Linked DNA regions of Homo sapiens: region 2 is linked to region 1. The links come from fine-mapping of genetic effects on gene expression. Tissue or cell type: thyroid. Region 1 holds a variant in brackets; the other region holds the start of a gene. All regions are shown on one strand. Distances are from middle to middle.

Region 1 (10,598 bases):
CGAGCTAGCGGAGCCGGAAAGCGGCCGCAGAGAGTAACATCGTTGCCATAGCGACGTGCCCGCGAGGAACAGCGGCCAAGGCGCCCGCACCGCCCGGCCCCTCCCACCAGCCCGTTGCCACGGAGACCGGGCCGGAGTGGCGCCGCGCTGTCTGCCGCGGCCTCCGGCGCCCCGACCTGCGCATTCGCAGCGGGACCTTGGGGGGCGCCGTGGGAGTGCCCTGGCGCCGCGCCGCGCCGGGGCCATCCGGACCCCTAGGCCTATTCCCGCCGCCTGCTCGGGTGGTGGTGGGGGGAGGGAAAAGACAAACTGTTCTTTGTTTGCCTTTGGAAAGCCGGCCTGCCTTTGTTCCGGGCGGGTTCGTTGGTTTCCAGGCGTTGAAGGCTGGGAGAGGAGGGGGTAGGGATCCCGGCCCAGCGGTCCCAGACGTTTTCGGAACTACAGACCCTGGGCTCAGCGCGGGGTCGCCGAGGGGACGCGGGCCACCAGCCCTATCCTCCGGAGCTCAGGCGCAGTCCAGGCTTCCCAGGCCCCGGGGCTGCCCTCCCGGAGCCTGACCTCCCCTGGGGGTGGGGGTGCTGCCCTGGGGCCCCCTTCCTGGGTTTCCTGGTCCTTCTGTCCACGTATCTCACTCCCCCATTGAACCGGCAAAGAGCACAAAGCAGAAAAGACATCCTTGCCGCCCCAGGCTCCCCCATCTAGCAGAAAACTCTGAAACAGTCCTCACCCCTCCCAAAGTTGAGAGAAACGTGGATGTTCCATAAACAAAACCCGCCCTCCAGCAGCATGTTTAAGTGGAGGCGACCTCGCGTGGGTGTGCGTGTGTGTATGTGTGCGTGTCTGCGTGCGCCGGGGACGCGCGATCATCTCTCAGGCTGTTTGTGGATAATTTTTTTCTCTAGATTTTGTTTGTTTTTAATAAGGATCAGAGGTCTGGGCTGTGGGGAAGGGGCAAGGGTCATCTCGGATGGCCAGGCCGGGAGGTACCAGGGGGACAGGTCTCCGGGCCTGGCCTGCCGAGCGAGGCGGGATCCGGAGCCGCCCCATCTGGCCCTACTCCCGGCAGTGGCTGGTGGGAGTCAGTGGGGACCGGCTCCGTGGGCTGCTCCTGGGGTATGGCCCCAGAGAGGAGCCAAGCCAAAGAATACGATTTCTCTCCCCTGCACAGGGCAGCTGTCATTTCCCCGGCCCCTGTCCTGGCCATAAGGGCCAAGAGAGAAGGCAAGCAGAGTGGCTCGGGTCTCTGGGGCTTTCTACACTGGAAAGGGAGGTTTTTGTTTTTTTGTACAAGGCAGACTTCAACTTTCAGCGAGCAGGCTGACCAGATGGGAATGTAGGGAGGGTGTGCGGGGAAAGGGGACCCCCCTGCTTCAAACTACCTCCCTGCCATCATTGCCTACCAGCCTGGGCCCCCACTGCGGCCCTGTGCTGGCTGAAGGGAGGGAGGGGCTGGGGCTGATGTTTCTTCTTTCCTACTCCCTCCTTCTTTCTAGATGTGAGAAAGGAACCCCGCCCTGTAGGGGAAGCTTGTCTGGTGTCCAGAAGACTTAGGGTCCATGGGCCGGGTGTGGTGGCTCAAGCCTGTAATCCCAGCACTTTGGGAGGCCGAGGAGGGCAGATCACGAGGTCAGGATATCGAGACCATCCTGGCTAACACGGTGAAACCCCGTCTCTACTAAAAAATACGAAAACTTAGCCGGGTTGCGGGGTGGCGGGCACCTATAGTCCCAGCTACTCGGGAGGCTGAGGCAGGAGAATCGCTTGAACCTGGGAGGCGGAGGTTGCAGTGAGCCGAGATCACGCCATTGCACTCCAACCTCGGCAACAAGAGTGAAACTCCAACCTCGGCAACAAGAGTGAAACTCCATCTCAAAAAAAAGAAAGACTTAGGGTCCACAGTGGCAGTCTGGGTGTTGTATTGCCATCTCTCCTTGAAGGAGAAGATGAACACTTGGTGGGAGGGCGCCTGGGAGCTGTTGCTGCAGTGTAGAGAAGCCCCATCTTGGCCCAGCGGGCAGCAGCCTGTGCTGAGAATGGGGACTCCAGGACCAGAGAGGCCTGGCAGTGGATCCTGGCTCTGCCAAAACCACTGCTTGTGCATCTGGACGACGGGGACAGCGCAGTGCCCCTGTCACAGATGGTGATGGCTCCTGGCGGTGGTGCACAGAAGCTCGTGGCATGGCATCTGGTGCACAGTAGGTGCTAGAACATGGAATCTGTCATTGGAGCTGGTGTGACCCAAGATGGCCACCTTGGGTCTCTGACACTCCGGGGCTGGCTGTGTCCCAGGACAGGTTCATCTTTGGTCAAGCCTCCAGGAAAAGAGCACTGGACTGGGGTCAGGAGAAGCAGAGGCCATGGGTTCTGTCACCAACCAACTGTGTAATCCGACACAAGTCCCTGAGCTGCTTTGAGCCTCAGTCTTCCCATCTTGCAAATGGGGATAATAATCACAACCACCACTGACTGTGAACTTACTCAGTGCCAGGCACTCCACCGAGGCCTGTACATTGCCTTATCTAATTCGACCCTCAAAGCAACCAAGTGAGGTAAAGACTAGATCCCAGTTTCACAGATGAAGGGACAGAGCCTCAGAGAAGTGAAGCCACATGCTGGGGACACACAGCTGGAAGGTGGTGCAGTCTCCATCACACACCCCTGAGAGCGAGTGTCCAGCTGCTGCTCCTGTCTCTGTTGTTCCCCCGCTCTTCCTGCTCACCTCCTGTACTTTTTGGTGGCTCAGGCCACAGCCCTCCCTTTGTATTTGAACCCTTGGATCCAGCCATTGTGGAATCTTCTGAGTCTGGTGGAGATCCAGCCCCCTCAGTGGGAGACATCCTCAGGGGTAGATGGGGGCTTCAGGAAAGCCAGGTGGGCCCCACATGGTCCCCACAGTCAACCCGGCAGCCCCCAGCCGATCTGCCATCCACTGAGTCTCCCCCTGCCGTTTACACCGAAGGGTTGGGGTTCCTAACCCACCCAGGTGGACGCGTGGCCTCCAGATGGTGCAGTTAATCCCGCTGGAAGCCGTACATCAGCGTGATTGTCCCAGCTTCCCTTCTCCTCCCCTCCTCCGCGCTGTCACCTCTGAGGAGCTAGTGGGAGAAGCGCCCCTCCAGCCCCCCGCTCCCGTCCCAGGCTTTGTTCCTGCTCAGTAGCCGGAACAGGAAGTGGCCCAGTCACGGTCTCCATAGCCCATGTTTGAATCTCAGCCCTGTCACTGCCCAGCACGGTGGCTTTGGCCAAGCATTTCATCTCCTGTTATCCTGTTTCCTCATCCATGAAATAGGGTGGGTCACAGCGCCTCCCTGATCCCAAAGATGGGGGCTGCTGTGTATGAGCGCTCCACCGTGGACCTGGCTCCCAGGGATCCTGGGATATGTAACAAGTGCTTACTTTGGGCTAGGTGTTGTAAATGCTTTAGCTCAGCAAATCCTCAAACAAGCACGTTAATGACCCTGTTTTATAGGTGGAGAAGCCGCCACTCCGAGAAGGGAAGTAAGTTGCCCAAGGCCACACAGCCAATTAGCAGAAGAACTGGGATTAAACCAGGCAGGCCTGTGCAGCTCTAAAGACCTCGCTGTAACCTTAGGTTCCTGGCCCTCCCTACTGAGCTCCTCTGAGGCTACCAAACCAGTGTCTGCAGTGACAGCATCTTTAGCCTTCCCTGGGGCTGCTGGGCTAATAGGGCCTTAATAAAGCCAGCAGAGGCATCTGCAGCTTTGCAGGGCAGGAGCTGAGGGGCCTGGTGCAGAAGATGTGTCCTGATGAAAATATCAGGTGGGGAGGGGGAGGGGACCATGGGGTGAGCCGCCTGCTCATGTCTCCAGCTTCCTGACCTCTGTGGCTGAGTCACTGGAAGCCTCCAGGTGCAGGGGACAATCAATTCCATCACTCATTCCATCCATGTTGGCTTACTTCCTTTCATCCATCCATCCATCCATCCATCCATCCATCCATCCTCCCAATCACTCATCCTCCCTCCCGTGCTGCCATGCATCCACCCATCCATGAATCCACTCAGCTACCCATTCCTTCCCTCCTTTCCTCCTTTCATTCTCTCCTTCCTTCTGCCCATCTGTCCATCCAGTGTTTACTGAGCACCTATCTTGAGCCAAGCCTTATGTGACGTGCCCAGGTTCCTCCCTCTGAGGGACTCACATTCTCAAAAGGATGCAAAACAACTAACCCCAAGTGCCCAGGGCCCTAGGAGAGGAGAGGGCATCTCAGGGGCTCTGACACTGGGCTCTGCACACCTTCCTCAGCCAAGGCCGCCAGGTGACCTTGGGCCGATCACACTCCCTGGGGACCTCTCTTCTACATATTCAAAAAAGGGTGTGCTTGTCCATTCGGCTGTTATGACAAAATACCTTAGACTGGGTTATTTATAAACAAATTTATTGTTCACAGTTCTGGAGGCTGGGAAATCCAAGATGAATGTGCCTGCAGATTCGGTGTCTGATGAGGGCC[G/A]TTTCCTCATAGATGCCTTATAGCCTTGTCCTCACGTGGTGGAAGGGGTGAGCAGGCTCCCCAGGCCTCTTGCCTAAGAGCATGAATTCCATTCATGAGGATAGAGCCCTCATGACCTAATCACCTCCCAGAAGCCTCACCTCTTTTTTTTTTTTTTTTTTTTGAGACGGAGTCTCACTCTGTTGCCCAGGCTGGAGTGCAGTGGCGCGATCTCAGCTCACTGCAAGCTCCACCTCCCGGGTTCACACCATTCTCCTGCCTCAGCCTCCCCAGTAGCTGGGACTACAGGCGCCCCCCCACCATGCCTGGCTAATTTTTTGTATTTTTAGTAGAGATGGGGTTTCACCGTGTTAGCCAGGATGGTCTTGATCTCCTGACCTCGTGATCCACCCACTTCGGCCTCCCAAAGTGCTGGGATTACAGGCGTGAGCCATTGCCCCAGGCCAGAATCCTCACCTTTTAATACACATTGCAGATAATGGTGTTTTTTTGTTTTGGTTTGGTTTGGTTTGGTTTTTGTTTGTTTGTTTTGAGACAGGGTCTCCCTCTGTCACCCAGGCTGCAGTGCAGTGACCTCATCTTGACTCACTACAGTCTCGGCCTCCCAGGTTCAAGCAATCCTCCCTCCTCAGCTTCCCGAGTAGCTGAGATTACAGGTATGTGCCACCACACCTGGCTAATTTTTGCATTTTTTGTAGAGACGGGGTTTCACCATGTTGGCCAGGCTGGTCTGGAACTCCTGACCTCAGGTGATCCACCCGCCTCAGCCTCCCAAGGTGCTGGGATTACAGGCATGAGCCACCAAGCTTGACGCAGATTATGTCTTGACATACGAATTTTGGGGGGAGGGGGGTCAGGTCATGGTAAATGTGGTGCATTGTGATGTCTCCTATTCTGTATTTCTACAATCCCAAACAGGTGAGTAAGAACCCAACTAACTACTCCCCCGAGCACCCATTCCCACCCCGGCCTCTGGGATCTGCCTCCAACACCTGCAGGTTCCCCAGATTGAGGTCCAGGTCCGCTCCAATTGACCCAGACAAGCTGCGGTGGGACCTGGCAGAGGTGGGGGCCGGGGCAGAGCACTGGACTCAGAAGCAAGAGGCCAGGGGCGGGGTCTGGCTCTGTCCTGTGATGTGTGACCCTGAGGAAATGGCATTCCAGAGCTCAGATGAAATACCTTAGAGACTCGGGAAATGTCAGCTGTTGGGGGCATTACTGTTATAATTATTGCTGTCATATTGTTGCTACAAAAGAAGCTGGTTAGAGCCACTGGCTTTGGGAGGCATCGTTCATTCGGTGGTTACCACTCGTTCACCCACTCACTCAATAAAAATTTATTACTGTGGCTGGGCATGGTGGCTCACACCTGTAATCTCAGCACCTTGGGAGGCCGAGGCGGGCGGATCACCTGAGGTCAGGAGTTCGAGACCAGCCTGGCCAACATGGTGAAACCCTGTTTCTACTAAAAATACAAAAATTAGCCAGGCATGGTGGCGGGCACCTGTAATCCCAGCTATTTGGGAGGCTGAGGCAGGAGAATCGCTTGAACCCTGGAAGCCGAGGTTGCAGTGAGCTGAGATTGTGCCATTGCACTCCAGCCTGAGCAACCAGAGCAAAACTCTGTCTCAAAAAAAAAAAAAAAAATGGCCAGGTAAGGTGGCTCACGCCTGTAATCCCAGCACTTTGGGAGGCCGAGGCGGGTGGATCATGAGGTCAGCAGATCGAAACCATCCCGGCTAAGACGGTGAAACCCCATCTCTACTAAAAATACAAAAACTTAGCCAGGCATGGTGGCGGGTGCCTGTAGTCCCAGCTATTTGGGAGGCTGAGGCAGGAGAATGGCGTGAACCCAGGAGGCGGAGCTTGCAGTGAGCCGAGATCGCACCACTGCACTGCAGCCTGGGCGATAGAGCAACACTCCAACTCAAAAAAAAAAAAAATTTATTACCGTGATCTGTGCCACGTGTTGGGCCCTGAGCCAAGTGCTGGGGAAGATACTAGGTAAGACAGGATCCTGCCCTCCAGAGAGGGCGTTGAACAGGTAGGTGTCACCTCGATTGCCAGGTCCCCATTTAATAGAGGCTGTGTTGAGGATTCTGAGACTACATCTCGGCTTAGAGGGAAAGAGTGCTGTGATCAATTAGTAATGTCTGCCACATTCACAGGGAGAGGAGTCTACACTAAGGCATTTCCTGGCCTTAACACTAAAGAATAGGCAGGATTGGCCGGGCGCAGTGGCTCACGCCTGTAATCCCAGCGCTTTGGGAGGCTGAGGCAGGTGGATCACGAGGTCAGGAGATCGAGACCTTCCTGGCTAACACAGTGAAACCCCGTGTCTACTAAAAATACAAAAAAATTAGCCAGGCGTGGTTGCAGGTGCCCGTAGTCCCAGCTGCTGGGGAGGCTGAGGCAGGAGAATGGTGTGAACCCGGGAGGCGGAGCTTGCAGTGAGCCAAGATCGCACCACTGCACTCCAGCCTGGGAGACAGAGCAAGACTCCGTCTCAAAAAAAAAAGAATAGGCAGGATCTCAGACAGGAGACCCTCGTGACTGTGTGACTGTGGTTGCCTGACACACGACCAGAGACAGCAAGTCATTGACCTACTGCTTGCCTCGTTTTACCTGTTTGCGAAGCAGAGATGCCAACATGGGACTCACTGCATTTTTAGAAGGAGCTAGAGCTGGACAGCCCAGCCTTCCTGTTTTAACCCAGCCTCCTCTGGGCTGGAGTGAGGATCAAGTGTGAGATGCCCCTAAATGGAAACACATCGCGCTCAGCAGATGCCTGGTGGACGGCCGACCAGGAGCTGGAGCTGCAGCAAGAGCACAAGAGAGCTGGGCTTCCAGCTGCTCTGCCATTGGCCCTGCTTGGGCCTCAGCTTCTCCATATGCTCAGTGCGTGCTTGGAGGATGGAAGTGTTTTGGGGCCTCTGGAATCCGCTGTCTTGTGATGCCTGCAATGCTGAGACCTGGGGTCGGGGGAGCAGAATGAAAGCGGAGCCCAGGAGGGCAGATGGTGGGAAGGAGCACTCCAGTGCCCCATGTGGTGGGAGGCTGGGTGGGCAGAGGGGAGAGGGAGGACATGGGGAAGGGCAAGGAGAGGCCACCACTGCTGGATCTTCCCGAGGGCTGTCTAACTCCCTCCCGAGGGCTGTCTAGCTCCATCAGGGGGCGCTTCCCCATGCACCCCCATCCCAGGTGTTATCTCGAGCAAGGAAGGGCAGAGGGAAGAGAGGGTGGGCAATGTGGGGGCCCCAGGGAGTGTTGGAGGGGCTGAGGCCCTGATAGGTGGGCGCCTGAGTTCTGAAGAGGCCCTGGCAGTGATGACCCCTGGCTCCAAGACTGGAACCCAGGAGCAGCAGGCTGGGGCAGAAGACGCAGGCCAAGCCCCAGTACTCAGGAGCATTGGGGAAACCAGGGCAGCTCCCGGAGAGGCCAAGGTGACCCTCAGACCCTAAAAACAGACTGGCCACGTCTCCCAGGTGGATGCAGCAGTTTCTCCATGAGCATGACTTGGGGATTTAGGGCACTGAGACTCTGCTACCCACCCCCCTTAAAAATCCCTTGTGACTCCCAGTTGTCCTGAAGGGGAACCCCAAACTCCTCAGAGGCAGCACATGCTGGTGGGTGAGAATTGGGAGCCTGAGTCCAAGTTCCAGCCTGGCCACTATCGGCTGTGTGACCACCAGTAACTCGCCTAACCTCTCTGGGCCTCATGGGCTCGTTGGAGGATGTGGTGAGCGAGTGACTGAGATGAGCTTAGCACAGTGCCGGCCACACTGCCATTGTTCAGTGCCGGGTGGCTGTGCTTACCACCACTGCTGGCTGTAACTGGCAGAGCAGGGCATAGAAGGTCTTGGCCACTTGAACCCTAGTTGGCCTATCCTTTCTCATCGGCTCCAGCTCCACCCGCTGATGCCGCCCCAACACCAAGCTGCTCTCTGTTCCCTCAACACTCCTTGGTCTTTCATGCCACTGGGCCTTTGCTTCTGCTGTGCCCCCGTCAGGAATGCCCTTTCCCCTCCAGGCTGCTTCCAGACTCTGCCGGTTGTCGAGTGCCCTGGAAACCCGCTCACCCTGCAGGAGTTACTCAGTGTCCTGTGTGCATCCAGACCTTGGTGTGTGGTATCGAGCCTGTCTCCTGTCTGAGTCTGTGACTTCTCAGGCGCACATGTCGTGGCCTATTCATTTTCTTATCCTCGTTGCCCAGCGCCGCGCCTGTCACACGGTGGGTGCTCCGTAGAGTGGGCTGGAGGATAGAAGCAATCAATCCCCAATACCGTGGACGTGCTTGGTGGCAGGAGATGCTTTGCTTCGATGAAATGCTCCGCCTCCAGGTTAGTGCTTTGCATGAGGGATAGGGACATGGAGGCGCCACGAAGGATCAGCAAGGCCCCTAATGACTCCTTTCTCTCCTCACCCCTCCTCTGCCTCTTATTCCTGCCCTGAGCAGGCATTGAGCTCCTGGGGTTGGGCAAGGAAGGGAGAGCAAGTGGCAGGGGGTGGGTGGGCAGCAGGTTCCCAGTCCTGCAGGCGCTGCTGGGATCAGGATGCCACCCTCGCCACCCTGGGAGTTGTCTGCAGCACAGGGGCAGCTGGAGGTGGAGGTCGTGTGCTCCATGGACAGGTGGGGGTCATGTGCTCCATAGGGTGCCCGGCTGGGCCCTTGTCCCCAGTGCCCTCCCTGGCTGCCAGACCTCTCACTGTGAGGCAGCCAGGTCTCTCCCTGTCCTGGCAGAGGGAAGGCTGTTGCTCCCATCTGGCTCTGCTCCTGGCCATCTGCCCTCTGACCCCACCTGCCCCAGGATGAGTCCCTGCAGAATGCTCGAGTTAAACAGAGTCTGAGGGAGTAGTGAGTCCAGCCTTCCCATTTGGCAGATGAGAAAACTGAGGCCCAGGGAGGCAAAGAGCCTTGTCTGAGGTCACACCAGGAACGCAGAGTTCCATCTATGGCTTGATGTTCTTCCAGGACAGGAGAAGACCTTGGTTTTGACCCTGAGGAAACAGCAAAACTTGGACCTTGAAGACAGGAGATTGCCATGACTAATTTGGGGGCAGGCGGTGTGACTTTGAGTATGTTACCTAACCTTGCTGAGCCACGTGGTACTGGTGAGGATTCGGTGAGATGACAACTGGTCACAGCATGGCAGGCCTCCTGGCATGTCCCTGACTCTCCTTCAACAGGAGCTTTCGATATATTAGGGAGCAGGTAAGCCTCACCTTGAACAAATCCAACTGATGACACTTGTTTTTATGCAGACATAGCGGTTCCCCTGACCTTTGTGATAGTGTGGGATGACCATGTGTGATGGAGAAGGGCCCACGGCAGGTTTCTCTGGGTATAGTTAGGCGGGACCAGATGTACATCCTGCTCTGCCCCCAGAAGCTGCAACTCGAGAGGGGCTTGGTGGCTCTGGGCCTCATCTTGCCCATCTGCAAAATGGGAGCAATGGCACTTCCCTCTCCAGGCTGTTGTGCCCCTTGGTGAGATCACTTCGGGATGTAGAGCCTTGTGAGCGCAGGCCTCCCAGAAGTCCATCTTCCTCACCAACAAATGACCCGGTTCCGGAGAAAGATCTCGCCTTTGGTTGCAAGGTAAGCCAGGTAGACCTGGCCTCAGGGCCTGGGTTTCCTGGGGAGGGATGGGGTCTCAGAGCTCCTGGGCTGAGTGAGTCGAGTCCCCCCAGGAACAGGAAGCTCTGCCCATCTGCAGCCCTGTCCACAGCTGGTCATCCCTTCCTCCCCATGCTGCTGGAAGCTTGGGACCCACCGGGCCCTCCCCGCTGCTGCTGGGTGCCACGTGGCTGCCGTTTGCCGAGGAGCGGGTGGGGCAGAGGGGTGTACATTTTCCAGGCGATGTTTCCCTGGCAGCTCTGAAAATTAACTGGCCGTTAATGTGGCATACTATTTATTTTAATTAGCAGGAAATTGACCAATTTCTTAATAAGAGGCTTTGTGGAAGCCAAACCTGTATTTGGGGTTGGCGGTGTGTGTGGTGGGGGAGGCGGTGATCAGACAAGAATGACACCCACAGCCCAAGAGGGGACCTTCAGGCACCACAGATGAGGTGGACAGAGTGACGGGACAGAGCAGCAGGGCCTGGAGAAACATTAGGGGGCAGCAGG
Region 2 (10,598 bases), 82 kb after region 1:
CCATATAGGGGAACTTCCTAACATTGCCATGGCATTTGTAAGCTGTCATGGCACTGGTGGGAGTGTCGTGTCATATGCTAATGCATTATAATTACAGTATAATGAGCAGTGAGGATGACCAGAGGTCACTTTCTTTTTTCTTTCTTTAAGACGGAGTCTCACTCTGCTGCCCAGGCTGGAGTACAGTGGCGCAATCTCAGCTCACTACAACCTCTGCCTCCTGGGTTCAAGCAATTCTCCTGCCTCAGCCTCCTGAGTAGCTGGGATTACAGGCATGCACCACCATGCCCGGCTAATTTTTGTATTTTTAGTACAGATGGGGTTTTACCATGTTGGTCAGGCTGTTCTCGAACTCCTGATCTCATGATCTGCCTGCCTCAGCCTCCCAAAGTGCTGGGATTACAGGCATGAGCCACTGCGCCTGGCTGACCAGAGGTCATTTTCATGGCTGTCTTGGTTTTGGTGGGTTTGGGGCCAGCTTCTTTACTGCAACCTGTTTTATCAGCCAAGTCTTTGTGACTTGCATCTTGTGCGGACCTCCTATCTCATCTTGTGACTATGAACGCCTAACCTTCTGGGAAAGCAGTCCTGTAGGTCTCAGTCTTATTTCACCCAGTCCTTATTCAAAATGGAGTCACTCTGGTTCAAATGCCTCTGATACCCGCACATTGAAAATGAGAACACATTGCTGAGAGAAACTGTTCATAGATTAGAAGTTTCCATATCATTAAGATGTCAATTATCCCCAAAATGATCTATAGAGTCAGCATAATTCCAATTAAAATCCTAGCAGGCTGACAAAGATGCAAAAGGCTATTCAGTAAAAAAGAATGATCTTGATACTGGAGTAACTGGACGTTCATATGCAATAAAAAATGAAAAAGAGTCAATCCAGACCTTGCACCATATAAAAAAAAACTCAAAATGGATCATGAACACAAATGTAAAATTTAGAACTATAAAACTTCTAGAAGAAAAAAAATGGAGGCAGTCTTTGTGACCTTGGGTTAGGTAAAGATTTCTTAGATACGACAGCAAAAGCACACTCTATAAAATAAAAGACGGGTAAGTTAGACTTAATCAAAATTAAAAATGTCTGCTCTTCAAAAGACATTGTTAAGAGAATGAAAAAACATGTCATATATAAGGAGAGAACACCAGCAATGTACATATTTGATGAAGGATTTGCATCTGGAGTATACAAAGAACTCTCAAAACTCATTAAGGAAACATAGAACCCCATAAATAATTAGCAGAAGATGTGAACAGGCACTTCAGCGAAGACCAGCAAGTTGGCACAGGTACAGATGCTCAGTGTCATTCGTCATGAGGAAAATGCAAATTAAAACCACAATGAGACGCCATCAGTCACCTCTTAGAAGGACTGAAATTAAAAAGACTGATCATGTCAAGTACTGGTGACCGTGTGGAGAAACTACAAGTCTCCTATACTGCTGATAGGAATGGAAAATGGTGCAGGCACTTTGGAAAACAGCTTGGCAACTTCTTGTAAAGTTAAGCATGCACCGACCACACAATCAAGCAGTTCCACTCCGATTTAGCCAAGAGAAAAGAAATAAATGTCCGTGCAAAGCTTGCATGTGAATGTTCACTGTACACTTTATTTGCAACAGCCCCAAGCTGGAAGCCACCGGAATGCCCGTCAACATCTGGATGGATGAAGACACTGTGGTCTATCTGTATGACTGTAAAGGGATAAACTGTTGATACCACAGCAACATGGATAAATCTCAAACTAACTACGCTTAGTGGAAGAAGCCAGACGAGAAAGGCTAGATACTGCGTGATTCCACTTACAGAAACTCTAGAAAACATGGATGAACCCGTGGTGACAGGAAACACAGAAGGATCAGTGGCTGCTTGGGGTCGGGTTGCAGTGGGAGGGGCAAGGCAGGCTGCACAGGGCCTGGGATCTGGGGGCGAAGGGTCTGTTCACTGCCTTGACGGCCTCACGGGTGCGTGTATATAGACGATGACTCATCAATAACGCAGACTCAGCAAACAGGGAAGCCCTGGCAGGAGGAGGTGGTGGCATCGGGGCAGGTCCAGCTATCACAGGCCAGCCTGGTGAAACACGGCAGTGGGCTACTTCTCCAGACAAAACTGCTCCCTCTTGGGTGTCTAGAGGCGATTCCTGCGTAGCTCTGCCTGGACTGGGAAACATATTCCTAACCCCGTGCAGGGGCTGCAGTCCCTCTACCCGAAACCCACGCCAACACCCACTTCACATTTTGCATTTGAATCTCAGGAGGTTCACGGACCCTGTAACCCAGCGGCACCCGCAGCCCCTGGGATGGAAAAGCATCATAAAAGCAGACAGTGGCGCGTGTTGGGGAGGACGGGGAGAACCTGGGAGAAGAGGCAGCTCCTTACAAAGCTCAACGTTAAATTACCACGTGACCCCGGCACTTCCTCTTATGGGTGTACACCCGAGAGAAACAAAAATGCATTTCCACACACAAGCTTGTACACGAATGTTCACAGCGGCACTGTGTGTAATAGCCCTAAACGGAAGCAATTCAAATGTTCTATCAATGGATGAACGGATAAACAACATGGTCTATCCACACACTAGACTGTATGATTCATCAGTAACAAATGGAGCGTCAGCACGTGGTCCAATGTGAGCGAACCGTGAAAACCTTACGTTCAGTGAAAGACGCCAGACGCCAGAGACCACTCATCGCTGAGCCCATCTCCCTGCAACACTGCCGGTAGGGGAGTCTAGAGACAGAACACAGACAGTGGCTGCCGATGGCTGGGAGGGGATGGCTATGGGGCACGTTTCCTTCCAGGGTGATAAAGGCATTCATTCCAAGATAGACTGTGATGATGGCTGCACGCTCTGTAGATGACATCTCAATCAAGCTGCTTCATGAGAAAGGCCCAGCCACTGACCACGGGGTGAACGTCCTGCCGTCCACAGTCCCTGGCCGAGAAGAAAGTATGACTGACAGGTAAGACTACCTAAAGTCCCAGGCACACCCTGGGGCGGGGAGGAGGCTGGGGACAAGGACAGAGTGTGCAAAGACACGCCGGGCTCTGGGAGGTCAGCAGAGAGTCTGGACCCCAGATTTGAGGCAGCCAGGAACTGCCTGCCAGTCCCAGCTCATATGGCCTGAGCTTGGCCAACCGTGGCGGGTCCCACTCGCAGATGGCCAGCTGCCTCCGTGCCCTGGGGCAGGGATGTCCTGTTCCTGCTCTTTAGAGTGACAGGGAGGCCCTCCCTAACAGACTTCTCAGTCATTTAGGTTGGGGGCAAAAGGGGCTGGCCGCAGCTTCGTGTAGGTGGAGCAGGGCTTGGTGGGGGGGCAGGGCTAGGTGGGCTTGCCCGGGGTCGAGGTGGTGGTCACTGTCTAGTCCCCACCCAGGACAGACACTCGGGGTCCCAGGGAGGGCTCTGCCTCCTGCCTGGCAGGAAAGCGTCCTGCCCACCCGGTGCCATGGCCTGGGGAGTGCTTGGCTCTCAGGCCAGCTGCCCGCAGGAGAAGCTGGGACTGGGGCGGGGAACCAGCCTGTTCGCTTCCGAGTGGGGCTGACAAACCCCCAGCCTCTTCACAAAGCCTCCAAAAACGGAATGTCGTGGGGAACTGGACGCAGATCCACAGGGCCATAGAGAGCATTTCCGGCTTAGTCAAGGGAGTAACTTTTTAACAGTTTAAATGCGCGTGATGGGATGTGCAGGCTTGGGAGGCAGTGGACCAGATAAAACCATTGGCCAGAAGATACAGAAGGGCTCTAGGCCGCCCAGGCCCTTCAGTTAGAACATCCCCCACCCCTCCCCCCCGGCTCCCAGGGCAACGTCAGAGACCATCTGGATGGAGGATGGGGCTGGTCCTGGCTTCTCACAGTTTGGGAGGTGGGGCAGCTGGGCACCAGGTCAGCAAGCCACAGGTCCACCCACAGCCAAGGCCCAGGCTCCCCGCCTCCCCCCGTAACCACCTAGACACAGAGCACAGACCCTGCCTGGCCATCGGCCCTCCAATCCCTGCTGGAAGATGTGCCCAGGCGGAGCAGGACCCCCGCATTACTGCTGCGCGTCCAGCACCTGCAGCGGGGCCCAGCACGGTGGGCATTCCACATGGGCGAGGGCCAGACGAGTGAGCCACACCCCACCCTTTACTCAACCATCCCCCATGAGGACGACATCAGAGTCGTCCCCCAAGCCCAGGTCTGACACTCTCTTTCCCCAACTTTGGCCTGGAGCCCGAGGCCTACCCCTCTGCTCTCCCTGCACGCTGGGTGCCCTGGAGCCGGTGAGCATGAGCACGTGAGATCCTGAGGCCAGAAACATCTCCCCAACCCAGCCAGACAAACTCTAATTCACCTGTGAGCCCCAGCTCCAGGCCACCTCCTCCAGGCAGCCTTCCTTGACTGCAGTGCACCCTGGGGTATCTGGGAGACGCCTCTGCACAGTCTTTGAATCGGGCTGTACAAGTATCTGTCCTAGCGGCAGCAGAGCCGCGTCATAAACAGTAAAACAAGCCCGGCGCGGTGGCTCACACCTGTAATCCCAGCACTTTGGGAGGCCAAGGCAGATGGATCACCTGAGCTCAGGAGTTCGAGACCAGCCTGGCCAACATGGCAAAACCCCGTCTCTACTAAAAATACAAAAAAAGCCAGGCATGGTGTCGGGTGCCTGTAATCCCAGCTACTCGGGAGGCTGAGGCAGGAGAATCACTTGAGCCCGGGAGGCAGAGGTTGCAGTGAGCCAAGATCGCACCACTGCACTCCAGCCTGGGCAACAGAATGAGACTCCATCTGACAACAAAACAAAACAAAACAATAAAACAGCAACAGCAGCTCAGGGCTCCTGCAGTTCAAGGTTTTAGCGGCCTGGGCATGCGGTTTCTCTGCCTACTTGGACCTGAGCAGCCTCCCTCTGCCCAATGTCACTGCACACTCCCTGCATGCCCCAGCCCTGACTCGGGTGAGTGGACCATGCAGACGGCGAGAGGCCATGCAGGCCAAGCCAGGATAGAGCGAACCCTGGCGGGGCCAGGTGGTCCCCGTGTGTTTGCAGCCTGGATGTGATGCCCACATCTCTGGGCCAGGCACAGCTCTCCACTGTCGGCGGCTGGTGGGATTAGATGTGACCAAGGCCGCTCCCGGGCCGGCTCTACTCTGTGGGGGGCAGGTGCGGCTCTGGGGGTCCTGTTGGGCCTGAGCACGTCCCGATAACCTGGCTGCTGCCCACTGCCCAAGCGCCAGAGCACTCGGCCACCAATGAGAGCTGTGCTTCCCTGGTCCTGGGTTAAAAATATCCCCGTAAGTGACAAGACTTTGAGAATTTCGTCTCTCCAGTCACTCACATGGGGGGCGAGGACAGCTCTTGGCTCCGCGTCTCGCCCGGCTGCATCTGATGGCTCCCTGGGCTGAAGCTGCATCTCATGAAACAGACGAGAAGTCATTCACAGCCCGACAGCACAGGCACAGAAATTTGCTGTTTTATACCAAGTTGGGCGGCCTGTCATCTAGAAGCTTCTGTCCTGACCTCCTCAGCGAAGAGGAAGTCATGGAACCAGCTGCTGAGCCTCCTGACCTCGGCCTGGCCTCTCCTGGCAGCTGTGGGCCCCAGGATGAAAGCGGGCACCACGTCACTCACGAGACAGAAGCTGTCGTTCTCAGAGCCTCCCAGGTGAGTGGCCGGGCGCCTACCTGAAGCTGGACGAGCCCACAGTGGCTGAGGCCAGTGGGGACCCAAGGGGCCGGTCCGGCCTTCCCGGACCACCAAGGAAGGTGGGCGCTGCTTCCCTCGCAGTGCAGATGGTCTCGGCCGTCACTCTGCTGTCCCTCTCCTGGCTGTGAGCTCAGCTTCAGTGTCCCCACCTGTGAAATGGGGAGACCCCCAATCCTTCTGGGCGGGTGCCTTGCCTCTGCCCTCGCATGAGTCTCCCCTTTCTGAGCTGGGATTCCATCTCTCCTGGGAATCAGGTGCTGCCTGGCTGAGAACCCGGTAGCCAGGCACAATCACGCCGTCACCACCCCAGCCCTCAACCAGACCCTGCCTGCTCGCCGCGCTCGGCCGCCATCTTCCTGTGGACGCCACTTACCCTCCGGCGTCGCCATCGGCTGCAAATTGCCTTGTTTTTCATCTTTGGCAGGGCTCAAAATTTGATCATGAAAGGGAATTTTCTTTTTTCTTTCTTAATTAGTACTTGGTAATATCACCAAGCTGTGAGTTTATGGCTTTGTAGATCTTGTGTGTTTGACACTAATTACTCACAAAGGCTTTTAAAGCTGCATTTCAACTCTGCAACCACCATGCCAGTAATTAAGCTAGAGGAAGCGGCAACAGATTTCATTTTTCACAGACACCCTTCCCACCTGTGCTCCCGCTCCGTGTGGCCGCAGCCCCCGTGGCCCTGTGGAAACCCAGCAGCTCCTTGCGGCTCCGGCCCTGGAGGCCTGAGGTGGCCTTGCCTCCAGGAGCCCGGGCTCAGCCGTCACAGCCGGGCAGGTACAATCAGGACGAGCTCCCTGTGAGACTGGGGACCCAGGCCCAGTCCCAACCCAGGTGAAGGTCCCTTCCTTCTGCCCCAGAGACGACTAACGAGCAGCTCCCCTGGCTGCCCCAGAGCCCCCCACAGGGGCCGTGGCTTCTGACCCTTCAGACTCAGCTGTTCCCAGGGGCCCTGCTTCTGCCCCGCCCGCCCCCACGGCTGCACTCAAGCCTGCGCTGTGCACACCGAGGCCAGCTGAGTACCGGATAGGACCTGGGCTGAGGCTGCCCAGCTCACAGGGAAGCAGAAGCCGAGAGACCAAGAAGAAAACATCCCCCAACTGGCTGACAGTCGCCCTCCTCGACCCCAGATGCCACTAAGAACAACGCAAAGTTCTGGCGCGCAGGGAGGGAAGTCCGTGTTGACTTGGGGGCGGGTCTGCAGCAGGAAGGCTGGGCACACCCTCCACTGGCTGCTCACTAACTCCCCTGCTGGCAGAACCTTCCGCTGCACAAGCAGAGGAGAAAGGAAGGCGTGGAAGAGAGCAGGTGGCCCACGGGCTGGGAGGGGCAGGGAGAGGAAAGGCGGCAAGGTTCCCAGCAAAAGAGAAGACGCCACTCCGAGAACCCCGGGAGGTATAAGGGAACCCTGTTTAGTAACGCTGCATGTGCAACAGATAACACGTAGTTCACGTGCACAGATGTGTGCAAACATCTATGATGTAACCGAGCGGGGCTGTGCAGAGCAACTGTTACAGTCTGAACTGTGTCCCCCAAATTTAGATACTAACCTAATCCCCATGTGACTGTATTTGGAAATAGGACCTTTAAGGAGGGAAGTCAAGTCTGATGAAGGTCATAAGGGTGGGTCCTGATCCAGCAGGGGCACCAGAGCTCTCCAAGTGCACAGGAGAAAGGCCACACAGGAATACAAGGGGCGGCCGTCCACAAGCCGGGAGGAGAGTCCTCCCCAGGGGCCAACTCCGGTGACCCTTGATCTCAGATTTCAGCCTCCAGAACTGTGTGAGACACACATCTGCGGTCTCAGCCCCCGCTGTGGGGCTCTGTGACGGCAGCCCCAGCCAGACCAGCAGAGTGGTGGACACGGCCAGGTCTTATTTTGGTGAACTAGCCCCTTGGCTCCACAGATCTCTGTAACGTGCTTATGTGGGAGGATGGTAGGGGCACGGCAGCCCCACCTAGGAAGCAAGGTCTCCACAACCATGGGTCATGTTAAACCAGCTCCTTCTCTGGAGGCTAAGGGCCTCACGTGGTCAACTGCAGCCCAAGGTCCTGAGCCCCCTGTCTGGTCCAACACCAGGTGCTTTGTCTCTCTTCTCCTTCGCACAGGTGGTCACCCTGCTGGACGCTGCCCCTTTCCCCACTGTCCTCACCCACCGAGACCAGGTCCTACCACAATAAAAGGACTCTGGTTAGGGCTTTATGGAGTCACCAGCCTTTCAGAGACACATGCTACAATACTTGAATGATTGCAGCTAAATTGATTACGATACCTTGGATTTGCTTCAGAATAATCCAGGAAGGGGGAAGAGGGTGGGATGGGCTCACAGGGACTTCTCGATGCTGTTTTCCATATTTTTATATATATGCTTAAAACTTTCCATGGCAAAAAGTGAAAATAAACACAAACAGAAACCAAACCAAAAGCTAAAAGATGACAACTCATCCTAACCAGGCCAGGGTGACCTCCTCTCAAAACCCAGGCTCTGGAAGGACATCTCGCTCTTACCCCCAGAAGGTGACATCCTTGGCCCCAGAGCCCCTGCCAGGGCTGCCCGGTCTTTACCCCTCTGCCCAAGGCCACACGCACAGGATGTCAACAGTATTTGTAGAATTAGCGAGGCAGCATGGGAAGGTGCGGTTCCATCTCCAGGCCCCCCGCCCTGGTCCTCCTCCCACTGGGTCTTAACTCCCCGAGGGGCCACAACGCTTCAATGCGTGAGGTGCCGTGTGCCTCTCCACCCAGGAAAGTGTGCACAAGCACACTCCGTGCTGCCTATAATTCTGGGAACGACAGGGGTCTATGAAGCCCACCCAAGTTCCTGGAATACAGACCCCTGCCCTGAGCTCGCAGCGGAACCCCCATGCTGCTGCTCCTCCTCACATGTGGATCTGGGACGTCATGCTGGGCAACTGAGACCAGGTCTGCCTTCATGTTGTAAACAACTAGAAAAATGAACAAAATACACACAGTAACTGTTCACAGACACTGGGCTGTCTAAAGACAGAGAAACAAATGAAGTGAACCTCTGAACACCCCTTGCTCTACCCAGTGGTCTCTTCCAGGCTTGGCGCCGTGGGGTACAGCTCAAGCTCAGCATGATGGTCCTGCTGAGAGGAAGGGAGGATCTGTGGAGGGCGGAGCTGTGCACAGAAGGCTTCTGGCAACCTGGAGAAAGGTCTCGCTGAGCTGCTGAGTAATACACTCTACGCACACAGCATGCAACTCCACAAGGCTGAACCAAGCACATCGGGGAGCTGTCAGGGAACAACTCCAGAGGTCACGCAGGACCGGGGACAGGCACATGCCGACCAGCCAGAGCAAGTGTTCTTGCTGAGCACCCAGGTCATCTGCTAGGAACCTCAGAAGGGTCATGTCTTAGTAGCAGAGTTAAACTAGCCCTGGAATAAAAGCAAATCCATACAAGCCCCAAGAGAGTGTGAAAACAGTTCTTGAAAGGATCAAGCTGACCCCAAAATAACTTAACTGCTTGCCAGAAAAAGCCCAATACTCTTCAAAGAAAGAACAAGGAAATTTGCACCCTTTCATACACTTAACATAAAATTAACAATTACCATCATACAATCAAAAATTACTAAGCATGCAAAAAAAGGAAAATGTGTTCTATAGCTAGGAGAAAACTCAGCCAATAGAAATAAGTCCAGAAATGATGAAATCAGCAGACAAGGATTTTAAAACAGCAATTATAAATATGCTGCAGAATTTACAGGAAAACCTGAACACAGTGAAGGGGATGGCTGCTAGCTCCCAGGATGGCCCTGAGCGACCCTGCTTCCTGGCAGTCACACCCTGGTGCTGTCTCCTCCCACATCATACCAAGGTTGGCCTACATGATCAATTGAAAACGGCAGAGCCAGGCATGGTGGTGTGCACCTGTAGTCCCAGCTACTCAGGAGGCTGAGACGGGAGGATCACGAGCCCAGGAGTTCAAAGTTGCAGTGAGCTATAACAGTGCTGCTGCACTCCAGCCTGGGTGACAGAGCAAGACTCTGTCTCAAAAAAAAAAAAAAAAAAAAAAAAAAAAGGCAGATGTGATAGTAGATCAACTCCAAGATTATGTTATAAAATACACTGTAGCTTCCATCTTGGGCTGGCTCTGTCTGTCTCTTCCTAACTCATTCAACACTCACTCTGCGTTGAACGCTGCCATGTTGTGAGGACACTCAAGCAGACCTATGGAGAGGTCCATATGGAGAGAAAGTGAAGTCTCCTGCCAAGGGCCACCTAAATGAATTTGGGCACATCATCTGGCCCCTGTCAAGCCTTCAGCTTTGCAACCCAGGACAAAAGCCCCTAACTGCACCCTCTGACGAGAATCTGGGCCAAAACCATCCAGCTAAACTGCTCTGGGTTCCTGAATTTCAAAAACTTCACGAGACAACAAATGCCTGCTGTTTTAGGTGCTAACTTCTGGAGAAAGTTGTTACGTAGCAACAGACTACAAAAATGAAGGAGAAACCAAAGATATGAAAAAAATAACCAAATAGACCTTTTAGGCATGAAAAACAAATGAAATTTTAAAACTCCACTGAATGAAATCAAGGGCAGGTTAGATACTCCAGGATAAAAGGTCAGTGAACTTAAAGACAGGAACAGAAACTATCCAAATTAAAGCACAGAAAAAAGATTGAGAACCAAAAAACAAAAAGTACAAAGCTTCAGTAATTAGGATAATATTAGTGACTTAAAATATGTAAAACTGGAGTACTGGAAAAAGGGGAGGGGAACAGAAAAAATACTTAAAGAAACAATGGCCAAAATTTCCCAAATCTGACTAACTATAAATCCATAAATCCAAGGAGCTCAATGAACCATAAGCAGGATAAATACAAAGAAAATCAGCTGGGGGTGGGGTGTATATTATATACAAAG

Evidence for each region. PIP is the estimated chance that this variant, and not a neighbour inherited with it, causes the effect.
Region 2: LINC01659 starts here. The variant in region 1 is the best candidate, but not a certain one, in a credible set for the expression of LINC01659 in thyroid (GTEx, PIP 0.74).

Annotation. Positions count from the first base shown.
Region 1 is chr22:23,511,488-23,522,085 of GRCh38, reverse strand. It overlaps LINC02557 (long intergenic non-protein coding RNA 2557), which reads left to right and starts at 8,752. Exons shown (of 3, transcript XR_938072.2): 1 at 8,752-8,810; 2 at 9,443-10,068. RefSeq lists a silencer at 1-304. The variant G/A (reference allele first, on the strand shown) is at 4,471.
Region 2 is chr22:23,429,812-23,440,409 of GRCh38, reverse strand. It overlaps LINC01659 (long intergenic non-protein coding RNA 1659), which reads right to left and starts at 6,846. Exons shown (of 3, transcript NR_110538.1): 1 at 6,349-6,846; 2 at 5,680-5,850; 3 at 5,339-5,586. RefSeq lists enhancers at 4,067-4,758, 8,325-9,170.